Regions from separate parts of the Homo sapiens genome. Here region 2 is linked to region 1. A link means that fine-mapping ties the variant in region 1 to the expression of a gene that starts in the linked region. Tissue or cell type: whole blood. Region 1 holds a variant in brackets; the other region holds the start of a gene. All regions are shown on one strand. Distances are between the middles of the regions.

The links.
Region 2: it holds the start of EFCAB12, and the variant in region 1 is fine-mapped to the expression of EFCAB12 in whole blood (TOPMed, PIP 0.91).

What each region holds. Positions count from the first base shown.
Region 1 is chr3:129,391,516-129,403,289 of GRCh38, reverse strand. It overlaps EFCAB12 (EF-hand calcium binding domain 12), which reads left to right. Exons shown (of 9, transcript NM_207307.3): 8 at 711-767; 9 at 1,439-1,969. The coding sequence ends at 1,697. It overlaps SNORA7B (small nucleolar RNA, H/ACA box 7B), which reads left to right and starts at 5,942; the gene lies at 5,942-6,080. It also overlaps the pseudogene RPL32P3. RefSeq lists an enhancer at 7,878-8,574. The variant T/G (reference allele first, on the strand shown) is at 4,648.
Region 2 is chr3:129,420,959-129,432,732 of GRCh38, reverse strand. It overlaps EFCAB12 (EF-hand calcium binding domain 12), which reads left to right and starts at 4,097. Exons shown (of 9, transcript NM_207307.3): 1 at 4,097-4,293; 2 at 10,930-11,366. The coding sequence starts at 4,245. It overlaps MBD4 (methyl-CpG binding domain 4, DNA glycosylase), which reads left to right. Exons shown (of 8, transcript NM_001276270.2): 7 at 127-230; 8 at 1,155-1,786. The coding sequence ends at 1,232. RefSeq lists a silencer at 3,911-3,960 and an enhancer at 8,143-8,192.

The sequences.
Region 1 (11,774 bases):
TGGTTGGGGCATCTTCAAGTGCAGGAGTAGGCCCAGGCCTGCAGGTGGGTCCTGGCCATGACACGGGCTGTGACTTCCTTCCAGCCCCGGGGTGGGCCAGGAAGTGGCTGGGAACCCAGGAAGGGGATTTTGGTCCATGCTTAGGTAGGCCATAGCTAATAAAGGATAAAGAGAGTTCTCTTAGGTCAAGGAGAGACGTTGACTGTATCTTGCTACTTATGGTTGATGGAGGCTGGGTGGGAAAGAGTGCCGTGAACGATTAGTGATGTCTGTCAGGCTCAGGGTTGGAGGGGAAGGGGGTTAGATTTCACCACCTTTGTCCTCAGGGCTGGGTTAAGCTCTGGAGTGGGGAGTAGGAGCCAGGGACCCCAAAAGGATTTGGCAGTGACTTACTGAGCCTCCCTCGTAACTACCCTGAGAGGTCTCTATTCTGGACCATGAGAAAACCAAGGATGAGAAAGGGGAAGTGACTTGCCCAGGTCACCTGGCCAGATTCTGAGGGTAGGTCCAGCTGACCCAAGCCCACTGTGTTCCCCTGGAGCATGGAGGCACAGAGTCAGGGTCCACCCCAGGTGGAAGACATTTTTCTTTCAGAGCTCTCGTTTGAGACTTAGAAACGGGTCCACCCCTGCGGCCCTGACCTACTCCCTAAAGCCCCATTGGCCTGGATTTCCACTCTCCTCACAAAATGCCTCTCTCTTCTCCACTAGGAAAACGCCAAAGAAAAGCAAGAAAATGCGCTTTAAGGAGTTTGAGGAATTTACCAGGTCTGTGGCAATCATCTAACTCCACAAGGAAGGAAGGTGGGAGGAGGGGCAGCTTCGCCTGAGACAACTGGGACTCTGCACTCCTGGCACAACAGCTGGGGCTCGGTGCCCTGGCCTGAGAGGCAGTGACACAACACAGAGAGGGCCAGGAGGCATTGCTCTGGGGCTTTCCATGTGTTCACTCACTCAGATCCTCCCAACAGCCCTACGAAGTGACACTAAGCATATTCATTTTACACAGGAGGAAACTGAGGCACAGACAGGGTAAATATCATGCTCAGAGTCGCACATCTACGAAGTGATGCAGTGGGGATCTGAACCCAGCTAGGGTGGCTGCAGGGGCCGTACTCCAAACACCACATTAAAATGCCTCCAGATAACAGATGGTTCGCGCTTAAGACTTTGAGTTTAGAGGCATTGGACAAGGAATGAAGCCTGCACTTGGCCACTTGCTCAGTGTGCGACGGCCTCCCCAGGCCTCTGGGTCCTCACAGGTGAGGTCGACAGGATAACAGAGCTGACCATATGGAACTGTGGGGAGGACTGAGGTGCTGAAGTGCTTGGCACAGTGCTAAATCTCCACTTTGGTCACAGTTGGTGGGCTCTGCGATGAAGCCTCAGCTCTGGCCTGTCTGCCATGACAACCATCCCTGTGTCTTCTTGTTTTCCAGGAAGCTGAAGGTGAAGAGGTCCAGTGGTCTGCAGCAAACACACCCCAATTCCTTCTGGCCGGGTCATCTTCTGGATAAGCTGCAGCTCTACCTGCCCACTGTGGCCACAGACCGGAGCCTGGCGCTCTTCAGTTGTGTTCAACACCAGCCCCATGTCTACCCAGCCACCTACCACCCTGACCACTGGTGGCCCCTTAGGAACAAGAACTACATGACCCACGCCCATTATGATGCCGCCAAGGTGTACTACATCAACTAGAGCTAGCCAGGTGTTGCCGGACCCAGCCTTCCTGGGCCAGGGGCCAGTGCAGCCAGCGGCCCAGAGCCCAGACACAAGAGGAGTGTCAAAGAGTCAAACTAAAGAAATCCTTTCAAAGAGGGATGGACCGGGGGCCAGTTCCCTCTGGACTCAAAGTGTCCAGTGTCTCAGAGGGTAGATGTGTCCAAGGAATGACGTGCAGTTTTTGACTATTTCCCTCCCCTGACCTCTGCCCTTTCTACATAAAGCAGGTTGGAGTTTTTCTCATTTCACCTGTGACCCAGCTGATGTGATTTCTTGCTCAGGAGCTGTGACCGGGGGGAGACCTTGAGCCTGGGGAAATACAGGTACATTCCCTGGGCTATTCCAGGGATGACTGCAGGCCACCTCCAGCCTCTTGTCCCGGGATCCCAGTGGGGAAACCTTGAGCCTGGGGGAATACAGGTACGTTCCCTGGGCTATTCCAGGGATGACTGCAGGCCACCTCCAGCCTCTTGTCCTGGGACCCCAGTGCCCACAGGGAAGCAGTGTGGGTACCCCGTACTCTCCTCTGTGAAGTGAGGTGGCAGCATGTCCCGTACCCCACAAAGACTGAGCCATCAGGTTACTGCTTCCAAATCTCTTGGGTCTTTGGAAACTGAAGGCAGGCTCTGTGGTTCATGAACCCTCCCAGTTGATGAACCCACTTGACCCAATCAAGACCTTTTCTTTCATGACAGGCATCATTCAGGCTGCCATTAGTAATGTGCTTCCCTGCTCCGCATCCCATCTCACTACATACAGCCTGCAGGATAAGCAAGATTCATGAGGTGTGGAATAGCCACAGATGCAGCAGGGTTCTAGCCCCAGCACTACGGCTTGCCAGCTGTGTGACCTCAGACATTCCACTTCTCTGGGTCTCCTCAAACTCCCCATTCTCCTCACACCCAAAAATCTCACCATGGAGTTGTTAACACACCCTTCTCACCTCTCTCTCATTCAGTCATCAATACAATCCAGTTTAGCTTCTGACCCCATCTGGTCCCTGGAACTATCCCTGTCAAGATCGCCAGTGACATCTGTACTGTGTTCCAGGAGTGGAATCTAGGAGGTTTTTTTCCTCCTGAAATTTGATTTTCAAAATAATCTTAAAAACAAAAGCTAAGGGCTGGGCGCGGTGGCTCACGCCTGTAATCCCAGCATTTTGGGAGGCCAAGGTGGGCAGATCACCTGAGGTCAGGAGTTTGAGACCAGGTTGACCAACATAGTGAGACCCTTGTCTCTACTGAAAATTAAAAAAAATTAGTCGAGTGTGGTGGCGCACACCTGTAATCCCAGCTACTACGGAGCCTGAGGCAGGAGAATCCCTTGTCCCTTGAACCTGGGAGGCAGAAGTTGCAGTGAGCCGAGATCTTGCCACTCCACTGCACTCCAGCCTGTGCAACAGAGTGAGACTCCCTCTCAAAAAAAAAAAAAAAAAAAAAAAAAAAAAAGCTAAGCAAATCAAGAACAAGCTTAAAAATTAGACAGTAGCTGGGAACAATGGCTCATATTTGTAATCCCCGCTACTCAGGAGGCTGAGGCGAGAGATCGCTTAAGACCAGCCTGGCCAAAATAGTAAAACCATAACTCTACAAAACAACCAACAAAACAAAGCAAGGTAGTTTAGACTAATGGTTAGAAGCGTGGAGCTTGGAGTAAAATCTCCAAAATTCTCCTTCCACATATGCAAAATAGAGACAATAATAGGTTACATTATAGAATTGTGGTAGGCCCATCGTACGTTAGCGGTTCCGGTCTCATCACTATTTACTATGTAAATTCAGTGAGGGAATTTTGGGAAGTCGGTCTTGATCTCTCCTGACCGCTAGGAAGCGCACTTCGGAGTAGAGGAAACAAGGGCGGAAATAGCCCAAACGCTAGATTGGCTTCAACTTCTGGCGGAAGTAGATTCCTCCCTACACCAGGTCTCAACTCAGAAAGAATTCCAACTTTCTAACTAGTGCCAAGGGCAGGTAAGATAAATTTTCCTTTACATTCTTAGATATTACTCTCTATTAAAACAGTTAAATTCGGCATTTCTGCAGCACTCTTTCTTTGACATGTCTTTTTTTTAAGGACCCGGAGCCGGAAGTGCTTGCCTTTTCCCTGTCAGGACCCAGAGGTTACCTCCCATCAGCCCCGGCGCTCTCTCATCCCTTCTCTCTTCCTTGGTGCTTCTTTTTCCTGCTCGGTGAGTTTGTTTGTTTGTTTGTTTTTGAGACAGAGTCTCACTTTGCTTCCCAGGCTGGAGTGCAGTGGTGCGATCTCAGCTTACTGCAGCCTCCGCTTCCGGGGTTCAAGCGATTCTCCTGCCTCAGCCTGCCAAGTAGCTGGGACTACCGGCGCCCACCACCACGCCTGGCTAATTTTTGAATTTTTAGTAGAGAGTGGGTTTCACTATGTTGGCCAGGCTGGTCTGGAACGCCTGACCTCAAGTGATCCGTCCGCCTCGGCCTTCCAAAGTTCTGGGATTACAGGCGTGAGCCACCGCGCCCGGCCTGAGTGAGTCTTAATCCGTGGCCATCTGCGTTCCTGCAGGCTTCATCTGGCCCTATGGTCCCCTGGTAAGGAGGCCTTCCCTACCACTCTGTGTCTGTGGGTATTGTCGGCTTGCTGGAGCGCGTACACGAACAGAGTGAAGCAGGCAGCCGGGGTGGTGGTTGGGCTTTGCGTCTATTGACGAAAAGAGTCAAACTGTGTAAAGTATTTGAAAAGACTTATTCTGAGTCCAGTATGAGTGACCACGGCCCGTGACAAAGCCCTCAGGAAGTCCTGAGAACATGTGCCCAAGGTGGTTGGGGTGCAGCTTGGTTTTGTACATTTTAGGGAGGTGTGTTGGGGGGCCTGGTCCGGGCTGTTGGTAGATTTGACAATTGGTTGAGTTTGTCTAAAGACTTGGAATCAACAAAAAGGAATGCCTGGGTTCAGA[T/G]AAGAGGTTGTGGAGACCAAGGTTCTTATTTATGCAGAGGAAGCCTCCAGGTAGCGGGCTTCAAAGAGAGTAGATCGTAAATGTTTCTTACCAGGCCTGAAAAGGTGCCAAAGTCTTAGTGGAGCCTCTCCTGGCTCAGGGAGAAGACCTGGAAAGGGAGGGGGATTCACTACAGGACGTAGATTGTCCCCACAAGAGACAGCTTTACAGGGCCATGTCAGAATATGTCAAAGAAATATATTTTTGGGTAAAGTACTTCTGTTTCTTTCAGGGCCTGCAATCTGTCATGTGATGCTATACTAGAGTCAGGTTGAAATTTGGTGTCTTATTGCTACAAAGTCTGTTTTGTCAGTCTTGGGATCTCTTTTAATGCTAACGCTGGTCAGCTGTGCCTGAATTCCATAGGGAGAAGGGCATAATGAGGCAAGTTCGACCCCACATTCCCATTATGGCTTGAACTAGTTTTTCAGGTTAACTTTGGAATGCCCTTGGCCAAGAGCAGGAGTCCATTCAGTTGGGTGGGGGGCTTAGAATTTATTTTTCGGTTTATACCGTGCTTACTGATGTTGGCCCACGTGCATTCATTCATTGCCATGACCCCACGTTCCTTTCCTTCTAGCCTGTGACCCTAGGGCTGCTGTGGTGGGACTGCAAAAAAAAAAAAAAAAAAAAAAAAAAAAAGATGGGGTGCAGGTCAGCTCACTCAGTTGTTAACAGAGATTTTGATCGTCAGGAGCTCTGGGAATATAAAGATGAAACTTCCCCCTTGCCTTCAAGGATATCATGGGCCAGAAGGCAAAGTTGTTTTGAATACGTGGTTCATTGAGTACCCACTCTGTGCCAACTGATGGCTGCAAAGAGAACAGAAGGGGTGCTGCTGTAGGAAATAAATGAATGGCTCAGAAGACCACACTGAGGAAGTTGTGAGTTGATAATGGAAGATCTCCAGGTTTGAGGCATCCTTAGAGGGATATGATGGTTTTGTGTGTGTTGGGGGTGTGGTAGCGCAGCTGCTACCTAGGGAATTAGAAGGTTTTCTTTATTGAACATTTACCCTGTGACAGGTACTGCAGGCATTCAGCACACAATGTCGTCTCCATTTTACAGGTGAGGAAACTGAGACTCCAGTTCAAGTAGATGGTCAAGGCCAGTACTACCGGAAGGACCATCTGGGGGTTCAGACACTGGCAGGGTGGGATTTGCTGCCCCTTGCAAATTGAGAGTGTCTTGGGGTCAGTTTTGATTTGCTCAGCTGTTGGCATTCTTTGGGCTCTGAGTGGGTGAGGTGACCCTTGACCTCCTGGGATCGCATCTGGAGACTGCCTAGTATTCTGCCAGCTTCGGAAAGGGAGGGAAAGCAAGCCTGGCAGAGGCACCCATTCCATTCCCAGCTTGCTCCGTAGCTGGTGATTGGAAGACACTCTGCGACAGTGTTCAGTCCCTGGGCGGGAAAGCCTCCTTCCAGGATTCTTCCTCACCTGGGGCTACTTCTTCCCCAAAAGGCATCATGGCTGCCCTCAGATCCCTTGTGAAGCCCAAGATCGTCAAAAAGAGAACCAAGAAATTCATCCGGCACCAGTCAGACCGATATGTCAAAATCAAGGTGTGTGGTCCTGGGATGGAAATGGGTGTGGGGTGAAGAAAGGAGTTTCCAACAGGCTGCCAGTTCTGACATCACCTAGTCAGGATTACCTTTGACCGATGAACTGGTTTGTGGAAGAGCTTTCTGTGGAAATACAGGTCTCCCCCAGTGTGCCCTAGTGCTGGTACTTACGTCTCTTGATGTGTGAAGTGAAACTTTAATGAAAAGGGACACTTGGCCATTTTGATATGTTTGGAGGGCTTTGCATTTGTATCATGTATTTTGGGTTGCCTTATGACAGCAGGATCCCTATTTTATAGACAAGAAAACTCAGAGGTGCTGAGAGCAGTGTCTGCACCTGTGCTCGCCATCTCAATATCTACACAGTCCCCTCGCATCCCATTGGTGTCTCCATTTCTTGGGAGTGAGAATGGCGGGGGTGCCTGCCTTCCTAGTGGCAAAAGCCACGAGCTCCTGGTTTTTCCCACCAAAAAAGCATGTAAGGAAATAGTGAAGTCCTATTACCAAAGGCAACTACTGTGTGGCATACTTCCTTTTCATTTGGTCCTTTTTTCCCTCCCCTATGGAACAGTTGGCAGTCTGCACAGATGCTAACCCACCTGTGTATTATTTCCTTCAGCGTAACTGGTGGAAACCCAGAGGCATTGACAACAGGGTTCATAGAAGGTTCAAGGGCCAGGTCTTGATATGATGCCCAGCATTGGTTATAGGAGCAAAAAAAAAAAAAAAAAAAAAAAACCAGAAAGCACGTGCTGCCCAGTGGCTTCCGGAAGTTCCTGGTCCACAATGTCAAGGAGCTGAGAGTGCTGCTGATATGCAACAAGTGAGTTGGGTCCATCTCTGGTTTCAGGGGTCTGAAGTTTGCATCTGTGCGGGCACTTCTGGCAGGAACTCTGGAAACTCTTGGGATGCATTTTGGGAAGCTGACATTCTCTGAGGGAATGTGAAGTCATTCCTTACAGGAGTTTAGAGAATGCTTGTTTGGGGCCAGGTGTGGTGGCTCATGCCTGTAATCCCAGCACTTTGGGAGGCCGAGGTGGGCAGATCACCTGAGGTCAGGAGTTCGAGACCAGCCTGGCCAACTTGACGAAACCCCATCTCTACTAAAAAGACAAAATTAGCTGGGCGTGGTGGTACACGCCTGTAATCTCAGCTACTCAGGAGGCTGAGGTGGGAGAACCAGCAGGAGAGGTTGCAGTGAGCTACGATCGCGCCACTGCACTCCAGCCTAGGGCGACAGTGAAACTCCATCCCAAAAGGAAAAAGAGAATGCTTCTTGGGGAGTTCAGTGTGTTTCCTTTGTTGGAGAGGGGAGAGACTTTTGTCCTCATAGCTGTGGAGTCCCAAGACCAGAAAAATGGACTTTGCTTGACACAGTGAACACAGCAGTAATCACCGGTTTTCAATATAATATCTTTTGGCTGTTGTTTCCAGAATGTTGCTTTATTTATGAGGGAATTTGGGGAAGATCAAACATAGGCCTCAGACTTTAAGAGGCCCTTTATGCTTTGGTAAGGGGTATTTTCAGGGGTACGGAGGCTTTACAACCAAATGTGAACTAGAGGGAGAATAAGAGGAAGACTTTGTGGACAGAGAGTACTTTACACAAAGGTGGAGAGTGCAAGGAGGGGTCACAGGACATTAGTGCTAGGTAGTGTTTACGGTTTGTTTTTAGAGACGTTTCTACTCTGTTGCCCAGGCTAGAATGCAGTGGCCATTAACAGCTATGATGATGGCCTGCTGCACCCTTGAACTCCTGGGCTCAAGTGATCCTCCTGCTTCGCCCTCCCAAGGTGCTGGGATTACAGACATGAGCCACCATGCCTGCACAAGAACAGCAGGTTTAAAAAACTAGGCAAGCTCACGCCTGTAATCCCAGCACTTTTGGGAGGGCGAGGTGGGCGGATCACAAGGTCAGGAGATCGAGACCATCCTGGCTGACACGGTGAAACCCCGTCTCTACTAAAAATACAAAAAAAAAAAAAATAGGCAAGCAGAGGCAGCAGGGGCAGTCTGTGTGGGGTACAGGGGCAGTCTCTGTGTGTGCGCAAGGGTAGTCTCTGTGTGTGTGTGTGCAAGGGCAGTCTCTGTGTATGTGTGTGAGTGTGTGTGTGTGCAAGAGCAGTCTGTGTGGGTGCAGGGGCCGTCGGTGTGTGTGTGTGCAGGGGCTGTCTCTGTGTGTGTATGTGTGTGTATGTGTGTGCAGGGGCAGTCTGTGTGTGTGCAGGGGCTAGCTCTGTGTGTGTGTGTGCAGGGGCTAGCTCTGTGTGTGTGCAGGGGTAGTCTGTGTGTGTGTGCAGGGGCCGTCTCTGTGTGTGTGTGTGTGTGTGTGTGTGTGTGTGTGTGTGCAGGGGCAGTCTGTGTGTAGGGGCCATCTGTGTATGTGTGTGTGCAGGGGCAGTGTGTGTGTGTGTGCAGGGGCAGTCTCTGTGTGTGTGTGTATGTGCAGGGGCAATCTCTGTGTGTGTGTGTGTGTGTGTGTGCAGGGGCAGTCTCTGTGTGTGTGTGGCCTCTGCTCAGCTCCTGGGAAGGGGCTTCTGATCCTCTGTCAACATCAAAGGAGCTGGGCCTTGAAAACCTATCTCAGCCTCCTGGTCTGAATGCAAAGCCATCGGACTCTCTTCCTGGGGCATTTGGTTATGTAAAGCCCTGCGCCAGGTTCCCAGAGTGGGTGCTTCAGCTTTGGGCAGCAGTGGGTCCTATCTCTGGGAACACCGACAGTGACTCCTTGTGTCAGGTAGGTGGGTGTCAGAGTGTCCTCATTTCATAAACAGGGACATTCAGAGGCCTTTGGCCCTTGCCCAATGTCCTGAGGCCAGAGAGCAGTGGAGTGAGCCTAGCCGTCCACAGGCTGTCCCACCCACATGCTCAGGATGCAGGGACTCACCGTAGGAAGAGGCGGAGAAGATGAAGGGCTGGCGGCAGTTGATGCAGACGTTGCCCAGGTTGTTGAGCAGCGGGTTGTTGGTGGAGCAGCGGTAGCACAAGGGCACCAACTCCTACAAAACAGCCACGGACTCCCGAGGGGCCGGGGCAGGCACGTGTCCTCCTCCCCCTGGACTCTGGCTTCGGGCCCCTGGGGCCTGGCTGCCAAGAGGAAAGGCCACCCGGGTGGGCAGGCAGGGAAGGGGTGCCAGGCCCAGGAGCTCCATGCCATGGGGAAGCAGGATAAAGGCCTGCCGAAATACCCAAGCCCTGTCACTTGGGTCCCTAAGAGGTGGGCATGATTATTTCCATCTTGCAGATGAGAAGAATAATGTCTGGGGTGAAGGTGAAGCACCCAGCCCAAGACTCAGCAGCCAGGAAGTGGCCCAGCGCTCTTTATACCACGGGTGCAGGAATTCACACAGAAAAGTGGAGGCCAAGGCGTGAGAATTCCTCAATGACTGCCCTCTAAAGGAAGAGGTGAGTGTGGGGCCTGCTCTGAGTGCTAAACACAGGCAGTCTCTGTGTCTCCCAAGGAACCCAATCGCTATCACATTTGCTTTAAATATTTAGAGACGCACGATTTGTTTCCTTGTCAGTCAAAGCCAAGAGGTGGCATGTGATGACATGCTGCCAAATGCTCAGGGCACAGACGGAAACTTTCATGTCAACCCTGACATAGTCACCACAGATCTCAATGGCCTTGACGTGCTCTCCTGCTGAGATTTACATCCCCACGGTGACTTTGGGCTCTTTCATATTTCTGGCCCAGTCAGCCTGTTTGGTGATTAGCATCTTTGTTTCTTTGGGGTCTCCAGATCCAAAGAAATCCTGAGGAAGCACAACAAACAAAAACACTCTGGATCAGAACTTCCTGTGCCAGCGTTACATCAGGGTTTTCTAGCAGCAAGGGCGGGCTCCACATGGCTGAAGCAGGCAACCAGGAGGTAGGCAGGGCCCGGCCCTGAGGGGCTGAGTTGGGGGAGTCCCAGGTCTCGGGAAGAGTGATCTCAGGCTGCCCTGCAGGTGTTCCTGGGGGATCCTGGGACAGCATCAGGGACGCTGGCCCCCAGTGCTTCCTTCCCATCTCACAAATGGGCATTTGTTCATCGGCTAAACAACACTTTCTAGACTATTTGGGGCACTGCACATGAAGTCTGCAGGGTCGGGGGTTCATGATCAGGCTGTCTCTCTCTCACATAGTTTGGTAAATACAGGACTGTTCCTAAACAGCAATGAGACAACCTGGTGCACAGTTCCACATATCGAGACCTGTCATCTTATTCAGATCATATGGGTGATACCACATGCTTCAGAGTGAGGCTGAGCATGGGTTCCCCTAAACTTACACAGACAAAATGACTTACAGTGTTTGCCGGCCCTCCGTGCCCTCCATGCCCTCTCTGAGTCACCAGCAAACATTCTGTGCCCTGAACTAGAGAATCATCACATTGTCTTTGCCCCAGTTACTTTCCTGGAACAGATAACAAGCAAACCTCTCTCTGGTTAGTTGCTTCTCGGCTGAATGGTTAGGGATCCTGTGCTGAGGTCAGGTCTGCAGGGGTGAGAACCTGATCCGACAGTGGGACAGCAGGAGGCCATGGGGGGATCTGAGGCAGGGAAGGTGCTCAGGAGAGGACCTGAGAAGGAAGAGATGGCTGTGGTCCTGGAGGCTCAGGGATCAGGCCTAGGGCCTGTGTTCCTTCGGCCTCAGCATACCTCTGAAGCGGTATGCCCAGCTTCTCTGGGCAGGCCCTACAATGTGTGAGAAACAGCCTCAGAACACCACCTCTTTTCAGGGTAGTTACCCAAAATACACACGTGGGAGTTTGCCAGAGTTGAGGCAGCTTTTAAAGGTGGAGCTTTTCAAAAAGGGAAACTGGGAGCACTTACAGCCCAGGTCTATGTTACTGGTAAGAAGTGGTTTGTCTCAGGAATAATGTACCCTGTGGAGAGTACTTTGTGTCAGCCTCACTGAGAACAAAAAAAGCACTCCTTTCCCCATGATTAACACTCATGTGTCAGGAAAGTACAGTCAATGTATGCTAAAAATCCACTTGAACAATTAGCTCGCTTTTTTCCCTCATTTGCTTTCAGAGTAAATGTGCTTTCAGAGTATTAGGTCGGCCTAATATATGATACATTTTAAGAAGGGGAGGAAAGCGCATTGTATACCCTGATGCTGGGACCCAATAGAAGACAGGCCCCCTGGCTGGCCTTTGGTTCTCCCTGGAGCTGACAAAGGGAAGGGGCTTGGAAAGCAGCCACTGTCCCCGCCTAGTTTGGGCCTTTACAGACACACCTTTCCTTTTGGCAGCTGCTATGGCACGGATTCTCTATGCCAGCACGAAGCTGGAAAACCTGCCTACCTGGCTGGTGAAATGAGGGTGGCAGCTGGAGGAAACAGGCATCTTAGGAGACTAGAAATGTCCTTCAAAGGGACTTCAGTGAGTGCTCAGGGGACCAGGGGTGACTGTGTTAAGAAGGGTTAGAGGTTGAGAGGGAGCCATGAGCTTGGGTCATCACCCCAGTGAGACCATCCAGGCACACAGCTCCCAGGCTTGGGAGGCCGCCTCCAGTCCACCAGGACCCTCAGGGA
Region 2 (11,774 bases), 29 kb before region 1:
GGGGTTGCTGGGAAAGAGCCTTTCCTGTCCCTTTCTGCTGTTCTCTCCATCCTGCCCCATCACCACACATTTTGGGAGGGTGTCTTTAGAAGCTGACCTGATAATGTGGGATGTTGTATTCTTCAGATGAATACCTGACAAAGCAGTGGAAGTATCCAATTGAGCTTCATGGGATTGGTAAATATGGCAACGACTCTTACCGAATTTTTTGTGTCAATGAGTGGAAGCAGGTGAGGCTCACTCCCATCCATAATTCAGCACATTTGGTCTCTGAGGCAAAATAAGTCCACCATTATGGTTAAGACTATTTATTGGATACAAATGCTATTACAGTCACAAACAATTGTGTTCCTGGCTGCGGGGAAGCGGGTGGCATGTGGGTTTTGGGGTTTTTGATCAGTAGGCGCTCCCAAGTCCACAAAGACCAGTCCAGCGGCGTGGCCTCTGACTCATCTCCAGTGGTTTGTCACCTCTGGCCCTGTTCCTGTCATTCCCTATTTGTGTGCTATCTCTAAGCCTGACGTGGTTTTCCTCCTGTCAAAAGTACACCACTACAGGAAAGCAGGAAGGTTTGGGCCTGCAATGTATGCATATTGGGTTTCTCTTAGTGGTCTCAGACTACGTTTGTGGTGACTGGGTCCTGCTTCAGCCCTGTTGAATATGCCCAGCCTGTGGCATGCTGGTGGTCATCCTGGCAGCTGGTGGGTGGCCTGGTATGCTGCCCACTCAGCTTGAGACTCACCCTCATGCATTCAGCCAGTAGGTCTGGCCAAGCCTGAACTGAAGGACCATGGTCCTATCCCAGCTTCATCAGAGCAATCCATTGTGACCTGAGAATCCATTTAACCTCTCGGTCTAGAACCTCCTTCTGGAAAGTGAGGTATTAATACTTGACTCATGTTATCGCCACCCCACATTCTAAGTCATGGTTGAGTAGTAATTTGGACAGTACCTTGTAAATTGTGTGAGATTACCTTAATATAAGGTATAACTTAAAATATTCATGAATCCCAGGAGGTTAAAGGTTATAACTTTTAGGTATGGTATCGTAATGTACTGTCCCCCAGCAAACATTTAAAAAGCCAATTTTAAAAAATGTATTTCTGACTAAGTTACATTAAGGTCTCTGCCTCTGTATCTTATGTTTCTTCCAGGTGCACCCTGAAGACCACAAATTAAATAAATATCATGACTGGCTTTGGGAAAATCATGAAAAATTAAGTCTATCTTAAACTCTGCAGCTTTCAAGCTCATCTGTTATGCATAGCTTTGCACTTCAAAAAAGCTTAATTAAGTACAACCAACCACCTTTCCAGCCATAGAGATTTTAATTAGCCCAACTAGAAGCCTAGTGTGTGTGCTTTCTTAATGTGTGTGCCAATGGTGGATCTTTGCTACTGAATGTGTTTGAACATGTTTTGAGATTTTTTTAAAATAAATTATTATTTGACAACAATCCAAAAAAAATACGGCTTTTCCAATGATGAAATATAATCAGAAGATGAAAAATAGTTCTAAACTATCAATAATACAAAGCAAATTTCTATCAGCCTTGCTAAAGCTAGGGGCCCACTAAATATTTTTATCGGCTAGGCGTGGTGGTGCATGCCTGTAATCTCGGAAGGCTGAGGCAGGAGGATCATTTGAGCTCATGAGGGCCCAGGAGGTCAAGGCTTCAGTGAGCCATGATCATGCCACTGCACTCCAGTCTGGATGACAGAGAGAGACCCTGTCTCAAAAAATATATATTTAAAAAATAAAAATAAAAGCTGACCCCAAAGACAAATAAGATTCCTCTGGCATTGTGTATTGTTGACAGCTCCACACTAGCTCTTAGGAATTGTAGATTCCACCCCAGTATCCATTTGATAACCTAATGTGAATATGGGCCTGCTGCTCCATTTCAGCTCACTCACTCTTTTACCTTGGTCCCTTTGTGAAAACTCATTTCTCATCTTCCATTTGGAGTTTATACCATTTGGCCAGGCACAGTGGCTTACACCTGTAATCCTAGCACTTTGGGAGGCTGAGGCAGGAGGATTGCTTGAGCCCAGGAGTTCAAAACCAGACTGGGCAACATAATGAGACCCCGTCTCTACAAAAAATTTTAAAAATTAATTGGGCATGGTGACATACACTTGTGGTCCCAGCTACTCAGAAGGCTGAGGTGGGAGAATCCCTTGAGCCCAGGAGATTGAGGCTGCAGTGAGCTATGATCACACCACTGCACTTCAGCCTGGATGACACAGCAAGACCCTGTCTTAAAAAAAATAAGTCTTAATGCCATTTTTATTACAAGTATTGTTACAGTTCAAATACCAAAGCATTTACTATTAGAAAGAAACCAAGGGAAAAAACTAGTTACTATGTCTTAATTACCAACTACCATTTTAAGGTATAATTTGAAAATTAAATTGATTGAATAAATGAAAAATAAATCAGTTGTTCAGGAAACTGCCTTTGTTGTAGGGCAGTGTGAACCGAATCAGGCTGCAGTGTGATGCAGAGGTAGTTGGTTGTTTCCACTTTAGTGAGTGTCAGTTTTTAGAAGGATAGATTTTGACCAGAGAACAGGAAAACTGGCCACACCTCCCTCTCCCCAAGGCAAACCCACTTTATAGTTTACCATCACATTTTCATTTAACAAACATCCAAGTAGCATTCACAAAGTGTAAAGCCCTGTGGTGGGGAGGGGCACAAAGATAAACAAGTTCTGTACAGACCCTCACAGAGAGAAAGAAGGGCACCTAATAATGGAAGGGAACAAAAGCGGTAAGGAGTAGGGACAAGACACCCAAAGAGGGTGGAGAGGGGCCTCTGAAACCTTGGGCCCAGCTGGGCCTGGAGGGTGGGGCGAGCTCACCAAGCTCAGGGCATCAGGTGTGGCTTTGTGGTAGGGCTGGTGGTCACATACCTTCCCCCAGCATCTCCATGGGGAGTGTGGGCCCGTGTGAATGCAGGAGGCGAGCTCTGCACCAGGGGAGCTCAGGACACAGCCAGGTTGCTCAGGCTCTAGGCCTGGCTTTTCCTGTTTCTTGCAGGTGAGGTTGCCTGACCTCTGTACCTGTTAACTTGTCTTTTAAAAATGGGATAGTGGTGTCTACCTCACACAATGATGGTAATTATGAAGTTCAGACATGTAGTGCTAAAATGGTACCTGGCTTGCAAGAGTGCTGTGTGAATGTGGCCCATGGCAACAATCTGTTTGCAAGCGTCACAAAGATAGCTTGTCTCAGCAAAGGAATAAGGGCTTAGGTGTTTCTCTTTAACTTTTTAAAAATTGAGCTAAAAGCCACCATTTAACCATTTTAAAGTGTACAGTTCAGTGGTTTAGTACATTTACAGTGTGCAGCCATCATCACTAATTCCAGAAGTTTCCATTTCTTTTTTCCACTCCAAAAAGAATCTCTCCACCTGTTAGCAGTCACTTCAATTACTCACCCCATCCCCTAGCAACCATTCATCTACTTTCCGTGTCTGTGGGTTCGTCTATGCTGAACATTTCACATAAATGGAATCATACAGCACGTGGCCTTTTGTGTCTAGCTTCTTGCTTAGCATACTGTTTTGAAGGTTTATCCATATTGTAGCATGTACTTCATTCCTTCTTATGGCCATCCTATGGATATACCTCATTTTGCTTATCAGTTGATGCACATTTCAAGGGTTTATTATTATTCTCTGGTCCTCAGGTTCTGTAACTCCAAACCATGGCACCCTGCCATAAGCGGGGCAGAACATACCCAACACCTCTATCTGGCCACAGCTCACTTTGGTTCTTCCTAACCCTCTGGAGGAGGCAGGGCCTATTTTTCCTATGAGAAAACTGAGGCCTAGAGATATGGAGACCTGCGGAAGATCCCACATTTCACGGGAAAACCGGAGACTTTCTACACTGGATTCAGGGACTACTGGGCCGAACAAAGAAATCCCGCCTTTCACCAAGCCCAGAACTGGGCGGGGCGTGGATTTGCTCGCTGCCCCTCCCAGAATTGGACGAAAACGAGGTGGGGCCAGCAGGCGCTCGGCAGGGCGGGCTCGCTCTTAACACGTGACAGCGCTCAGCCAATTGGCGCGGGGCGTCCGTAGCCACGGCAACAGGTTGCTTCTGCAGTCTGAGCTGAGCGCCTTTCGCACGACTTGGAGTTACGGTTTATCTGATACCCCGGTACCCCTACGCAAGCAAGCCCACATCGACACACATTCACACACGCCCTTCAGCACCCCCTCCCAGCACCACGACCATGGACGACGACTATGAAGCGTACCACAGTCTGTTCTTGTCGCTGCTCGGTAAGCCCCGGGAAGAAGCGTCTGCAGGGAGCGCTCAGCGCCCTAAGGACGCGTGAAAGTGGGGTGAGGGCAAAAACTCAGCCACAGATATTGTGCCGACCCCCTCTGGGTGAAGGGTTGCCATGGAGTCGGGGGCAGGTCATGTACATTTCTGAGATTTCTATCTGAGCCTAGTTGGAGGAACCAGAGGCCCGACCCATGTGACGGGAGCCCTCCAGCTCGCCCTGTTTCTCTGCAGGACATTAATGTATTCAGTACTGGAGGAGAGGCATGGAGAAGACGTCAGTCTTCAAGGTTTTGGCAGTAATGTGCTGGGGACCAAGTTCTTGGCAAAGCAATGCAGCTTCACGGGTAAAGGACAGAGATAAATGGATAATTACAGAATAAGAAGGGGTAAATGCCGGGCCCAGGGATGACACCCAGGAGTAAAAGGTGTGCTGAGGGTATGGGATGGGGAGGAACAGTTCCAAGCTTTTGGAAAAGATCTTTACACTGGAGCTTAAAGGATAAAAAGGAGTTCTCCAAGCCAAAAGGGGAAGGAAAAGCATTTCGGGCAAGGAAACAGCATGACCCAAGAGGTCTGGTGTCTCTGGAAATGAGGTGAGAGAGGTCAGAAGGGACAAGATCATAAAAGATACTGCAAGCCAGGAGATGGAGAGGCCACTGGGAGTGGCAGGACTGGATTGGGAGCAGTCAGAAAAGACCTGAGACTGAGTTGGCAGACTCAGAATGTTGGTGTGGGGAGATGAGAGCTGGGGGCTATAAAGCTTGAAGACTGAAGGTCTTCTCCATGCCGCTTCTCCAGCACTGAACACATTAATGCCCAGTGGAGAAACAGGGAGAGCTGGAGAGGCTGGCCACCTTTCCCAGGCACACAGGTCAGGGCTCTGGTCAAATGCCCAAGCTAAAGATGCTGGGAGGTGAGGGAGAAGGCCCAGGCTAGAGGGAACTACGGGACTTGGGGGCTGGTTGGTCAGGAAACACAGAAGAGGCAAATAAAGATGGTTCTCAAGTTGGCAGCTGGGGGACCTGGTAGATGGAGATGTCTTCCACAGAGATAAGAGAACGTACTCAGAGGACCCAGTTAGTGGGGGAAGGGGCACAAAGACAAATCCAGTCTTGGTTGGTTGAGTTTAAGATCCTTGTCAGTAGCTGGGCACAGTATCTCACGCCTGTAATCCCAGCACTATGGGAAGCTGAGGCAGGAGGATTGCTTGAGCCCAGGAGTTTGAGAATAGCCTGGGCAACATAGTGAGATCCCATCTCTACAAAATTGTTTTTTAAAGTTAGCCAGGCCTGGTGGGGTGGCTCACGCCTGTAATCCCAGCACTTTAGGAGGCTGAGGTGGGTGGATCACGAGGTCAGGAGATCAAGACCATCCTGGCTAACACAATGAAACCCCGTCTCTACTAAAAATACAAAAAATTAGCCGGGCATGGTGGCAGGCGCCTGTAGTCACAGCTACTCAGGAGGCTGAGGCAGGAGAATGGCATGAACCAGGGAGGTGGAGCTTGCAGTGAGCCAAGATCATGCCATTGCACTCCAGCCTGGGTGACAGAGCAAGACACCATCTCAAAAAAAAAAAAAAAAAAAAGGTTAGCTAGGCTTAATGGCATGCACCTGTAGTCCCAGCTACTCAGGAGGCTGAGCTGGGAGGATCATTTGAGCCCAGGAGTTCAAGGCTGCAGTGAGCTATGATTGAGCCACTGTACTCCAGCTTGGGGAACAGAGCAAGACCCTGTCTCAATTAAAAATAAATAATAAAAAAAGATCCCCGGCCGGGCGCCGTGGCTCACGCCTGTAATCCTAGCACTTTGGGAGGCTGAGGTGGGCGGATCACCAGGTCAGGAGATCGAGACCATCCTGGCTAACACAGTGAAACCCCATCTCTACTAAAAATACAAAAAATTAGCCGGTCGTGGTGGCAGACACCTGTAGTCCCAGGTACTCGGGAGGCTGAGGCAGGAGAATGGCGTGAACCCGGGAGGCAGAGCTTGCAGAGAGCCGAGATCGTGCCACTGCACTTTAGCCTGGGAAACAGAGCAAGAGTCCGTCTCAAAAAAAAAAAAAAAAAAAAAAACAAAAAAAAACCCTGTAAGCCATCCAAGTGGAGATGTTTTAGGAACAACTGGAGGTATAAACTTGGAGCTAATTCCAAGTCAAAAATATTGGTATGGATGTCCCCAGCATACAGAAGGTCATAGAAACATGAGAATGGAAGGGATTATTTAAAAAGAGAAGAGACCCTGGGTATAAGCCTGGAAGCAACAACCTTTAAGGAGTAATCAGGAAAAGAGGGGCCCAAAAACAATAGCCGGAGAGGTAGAATTGGACATAGCAAGAGATTGAATCAAGCCAAGAGCAGGGAGAATTTCAAGAAAGAGTAGAATTGTTTCCAGACACCTATAGGCTGTCTGAGAAAAGAGAGAACAAGTGTGTTTTCTGGGACATCCATGGGGAGGACTAGAACCAAAGGGTAGAAAGTCCAGGGAAACAAATTCTGGGTCAATATAAGGAAATATTTTCTAGCAGTCAGAGTTTAGTGTCCACCATGTTAAGTAGAAAGTTCCACGTCACAGGAGATGTATAAACAGAGGCAAAGTCTGCCAGTGGCATTGAGGAGAGTGTCCCTGACCTGGGCAGGTGATTGAACTAGCTGGCGTCTGAGAGCTTTCCTTGCCAATTTCCTAGGAACATTGTCACATAGTCTCTACCCATAACTACACAATGACAGCCTCTTTTATTATAAGAGCCCATTTCCCTTTCTGTCAATGGACACAGGACTCCAAAGAGCACTAGAATGAAGCTCCCTGAGGAGGTTTGGTGGGCAGGCACCCTTGGAAAGTGGGGTCAGGGGCTGGTGCAGGTTTAGAACTGTGAGGAGAATGACTCGGCCAGGGGAAGCCCTGGGGAATGCAGTGCTCTTCAGAGGGCACAGCAAATGCAAAAACTGAAAACCCAGAGCCAGGAAGGAACAAGGCACCTCAGACAACAGAAAGGAGGACAGCAGCTGGGACCACATGAGTGAGGGGGCGGGGGCTGGGAGGTGACAAGGGAAGAGTGGGGAGCAGGGCCAGTGAAGGCAGCTTTGTAGGCCACAGAAGGAGGCGGGTATTTATTCAAAGAGCACTAAGAATCCATTGAATGGTTTCAAATGGGGAAGGGACAGACTGTGAATTTACATTTGTAAGGCTCTCCTGGCTGAGGGCAGAACATGGATTGGGGGTCTAGGGAGGACCCAAATGGGAGCAGCAAGACCTGTGGGGAGCAGGTTTTGTGTTCCCGTGGCCTGCAGGGTAAAGTTTCAATCTCTTAGCCTGGCATTTGAGATGACGCCAACCTTATTTCCCACTAACCTCCTCCTTTACACACAGTGGGCTTCCAACATGTGGAACTGTCTGGTGACCCTAAAATCCCCAAATCCCACTCCTGACCTTTCCCCATCCCTGCCCCTCCACCCCATGAAGCCAGACCATTCTTGAAGGTCCACATCAAAGACACCTCTTCCTTGATGCCCTCCCAGGTCCCACAGTCAGCATTTCTCCCCCAACTGAGAACATCTTGTTACCCTCTGGGTGCCCCACCTTGTTCCATTGGGTGGACTGAGAACAGGTGAACCACGGTAGGTGCCCAGCCTAGTTTAATCTGCACCTGGTTCAGCACCAAGCCCTGGGGGATTCTCAATAAATACTGATTTGATGAATGACTACATTCTCAGTCATCCCCTGCTGGGAATGAACTTTCTTGTGGTCAAAGTAATGATACATGTGTTGTTTAGAAGTGTTCGCTTCCATCCCTATTGATGTGTAATATCTGTTCTAGCATTGCTATAAAGAACTACCTGAGACTAGGTAATTTATAAAGAGATGAGGTTTAATTGACTCACAGTTCCTCAGGCTGTACAGGAAACATGGCTGGGGAGGCCTCAGGAAACTTACAATCATGGCAGAAGGCAAAGACAGGCACATCTTACATAACCCAAGAAGGAGGAAGTGAGAGCAGGGGGAGGTGCTATGCTTTTGAACAACCAGATCTTGTGAGCACTCGCTCTCATGAGAACAGCAAGGGGGACGTCCTCTCCCATGATCCAATCACCTCCCACTAGACCCCTCCTCCAACAATGGGGATTATAATTTAACATGAGATTTGGGCAAGGACACAGATGCAAACCATACCATGATGTTTACTTTTCTTATTTGCTGACTCTGAAAGGAACACATGGGCCTTGTAAAGAGACTTAACAAATGTACTGAATGTCCACTTTGGGCCAGGCTGGGCACCGAGGACACAGGGGAACTAAGACACAGTCCTGGTCACTGGGAAACTCACAGGCTGTTGGGAAAGAAAGATGCAGAAAGTATCTTCATTTCAGAAAAATATGGTAAATGCTTATGATGGGACTAAGTGTGGGGGCTATGGGACCCAGAGGGCCCATGAGAAGGGGAGTGGGAGGGCTTCAAGGGGCCGGGATGCCTGAGCTGAGTCTCAAAGGGTGAGTCAGGGATCAAGAAGTGAAGCAGGGAGGGAGAAGAGCATGTCACAGGGAGGAAACAGCATGGCTTGTGTGTGTTGGTGGGGCAGATCTGTTTGGATACAAACGTAAGGGAAGGCAGAAGGAGCCAGAGAAATCGGAGAGGCTGGTAGGGGTGAGAGGACCAGGTGGGGCCAGGTTAAGGAGCTTGAACTTTACTCTAGAGGCAGTTAGGAGCCATGGACAGGTTTTAAGCAAGGGAGTTTGGGTTTTAGGAGGAAAATGACAGTGACAGTATTTCCAATAAGATTGTTATATCCCTTCTGATTTTTTTAAATTTTTTTGAAAAAGGGTCTCTGTTGCCCAGGCTGGATTACAATGCGGGTAATCTCAGCTCACTGTAGCCTTGACCTCCCAGGCTCAAGTGATCCTCCCACCTCAGCCTCCTGAGGAGCTGCGACTACAGGCGTGCACCACCATGCCCGGCTAGTTTTTAAATTTTTTTGTATAGATGAGGTCTCACTATTTTGCCCAGGCTGGCCTTGAACTCCTGGGCTCAAGCAATCCTCCCACCTCAGCCTCCCAAAGTGCTTGGATTACAGGCATAAGCTACCATGCCTGGCCCCTTCTGATTTTTTAGAACACTTCCAAACTGTTATCTCATTTGATCTTCATAACAACTTCAAGAGGTAGATAGAGCAGAGTTTATATCATTTCAGAAGTAAAATACTTGAGACTCAGCAGGATTGGGTGACAGCCCTGGGTAATATCAAGTAACAGCTAAGAGCCGAGCTCTGGGGCCAGACAAACTGAAGTTCATGTCTCAGCTCTGCTACTAATCAACTGAGTGACCTTGGGCCTCTCTAGGCCTCAATGTCCTTATCTGCAAAATGGGCATAATCATAGTACCAGCATCATAGGTCTGTCCATTTTTCACTCACCAAATATTTACTGAGTTCCCATTATATGTAGACACTGTGGAGGTGTCAGGGCTCCAGTCAGGAACAAGAGAGATAGGGTTACAGTCTTCATGGAGCTCATAGTCTACTAGAAAAAATAAACATGAACCAAATAATTGCACCAGGGGTCTCAAAGGCAAATTGCTGCCCAAACCGAGGACTTAATAAAGAAAATGAGCTGCCTGTGAGACAAAAAGGAATGGGGGAGCCTGTGGCAAGCTGGAGAGGGCAATGCCTCAGCCCAAAGTAGCTCAGATTGAAAAATATCAAGCAAGTTGTCAAACAAAACAAGACCTCAGCCCTCATTCAGCATGAGGGCCACCAGTTTTCAGCCCTTGTTGTACCCAGTCGTGATAAGTGGTCTGAAGGAAAGTGCAGGTTGTGATGCAAAGATGGGACCTGGAGGATAAGGAAGAGTGCCCAGGGTGTGGATGGGGAGGGAGCACTCCTGCTAGAGGGAGGAGCACGTGCCAACCCCTAGTCAGGATGAGGCTTGGACCACTCAGCAAACAGAGAGAAGCCCAGGCATCCAGGACATAGTAAGGGAAGAGAAGCAAGGGATTAGGGGGACAGGTTGACAGAAGAGGGGCCCGGGACTTCATTTTAAGGTTATCAAAAGTCATGGAAGGGCTTCAAAATGAGTGCATGGTGAGTATATACCAATAATAGCAGATATATTATGTACAAAGCAACTCTAATAAATTGACTGATTTTAACATCACTCCCATCCGATAAAATAGGTTACCATCATTATGCCCATTTTACCAATGAGGAGGTTGAGACAGAGAAGTTAGGTGGTTTGCTCAAGATCATGCAGCCAGTAGGTGGCAGGGCCAGGACTCAGACCGAAGAACGTTCTGGCCCCAAAGCCTCTGCTCTTAATACTGTGCTGCCTCAGATGATCACACAAGATCAGACTGGCATCTTTAAAAGTTCATTCTGATTGCCAATGGGAGGTGTTGGGGGCTGGGTATGGAGAAGATGAAATAAGAGAAAGCATATAGAGCCCTTAGCTTGCTGCCTGCTGTTGGGAGCACCCGGTAACATTAGATGAAATTATCCTTACGATTACAGCAAGACAATGATAAAGCCTGGCCTGGGATCCAGGGCCCTGTTGCCCAGCCTGGAGCAAAAGTGTTTTTCCTTCCTGGCTCCTTTCAGTCCTCTTCCAGAGAGAAACTCATCTTTTAACTCTCTTACCCCAAGGACTCTGCCCGTCTAAGACTCCCATCAATGAAAATGCTCCCGTCTTTGATCCTGAACCGGTCATTGCCCACTGCTTCAAGCAGTTCCAGCAGAAGGACTTCCGCCTGCCTCAGACCCGCCGGCGAATCATCATGGTGCCTCGCAAGGAGGATCAGACACCCCTTAATCCTGCATCCCAACCTCAGGCTCCCCCAAAGCCCATCCCCAGCTTCAAAGTTCTGGAAGCTAGAGATATCCAAGAGCAGCCAGAGGACAGGAAGACCTGGCTGAGCCAGAGGTCGAAGCTGCGGCAGGAGCTAGAGTCCTTTGGTGATGTAAAGAGGTGGCTGGAGAACAAGCCCAGCATCACGCCTTCAGAGGCCAAGGTCTTACACATGATCCACGAGGAGCAGAGTGCCCAGCCAAATGCCTCCCAGGCAACTACCAGGACCACCAGGGTGAGCAGCCCCATTTGCCAGATGAAGACACCAAGGGTTTAGGGATGCATCATTATTTTATTCCCTTGGGTTAGGCTGGATAGGGATAGTTCACACCATTTCACAGAGGAGCAAACAGAAGTCTTGAGAGGGAGGTGTATTAGTTGTCTAGTTATCTATTGCTGCATAACAAACACCCCCAAATGACTGAAAGCAACAAATATTTATGATCACACACCGTTTCTAGAGTCAGAAATCAGGGAGTAGCTTTGCTGGGTCGCTCTGGCTCAGAGTCTCTCATGAGGTTGCAGTCAGGATGTTGGCCTGGGCCACAGTCATCTGAAGGCTTGACTGGGGCAAAAGGATCTGCTTCCAAGCTGGCTCACCCATGTGGCTATTGGCAGGAGGCCTCAGTTCCTCCCCACATGG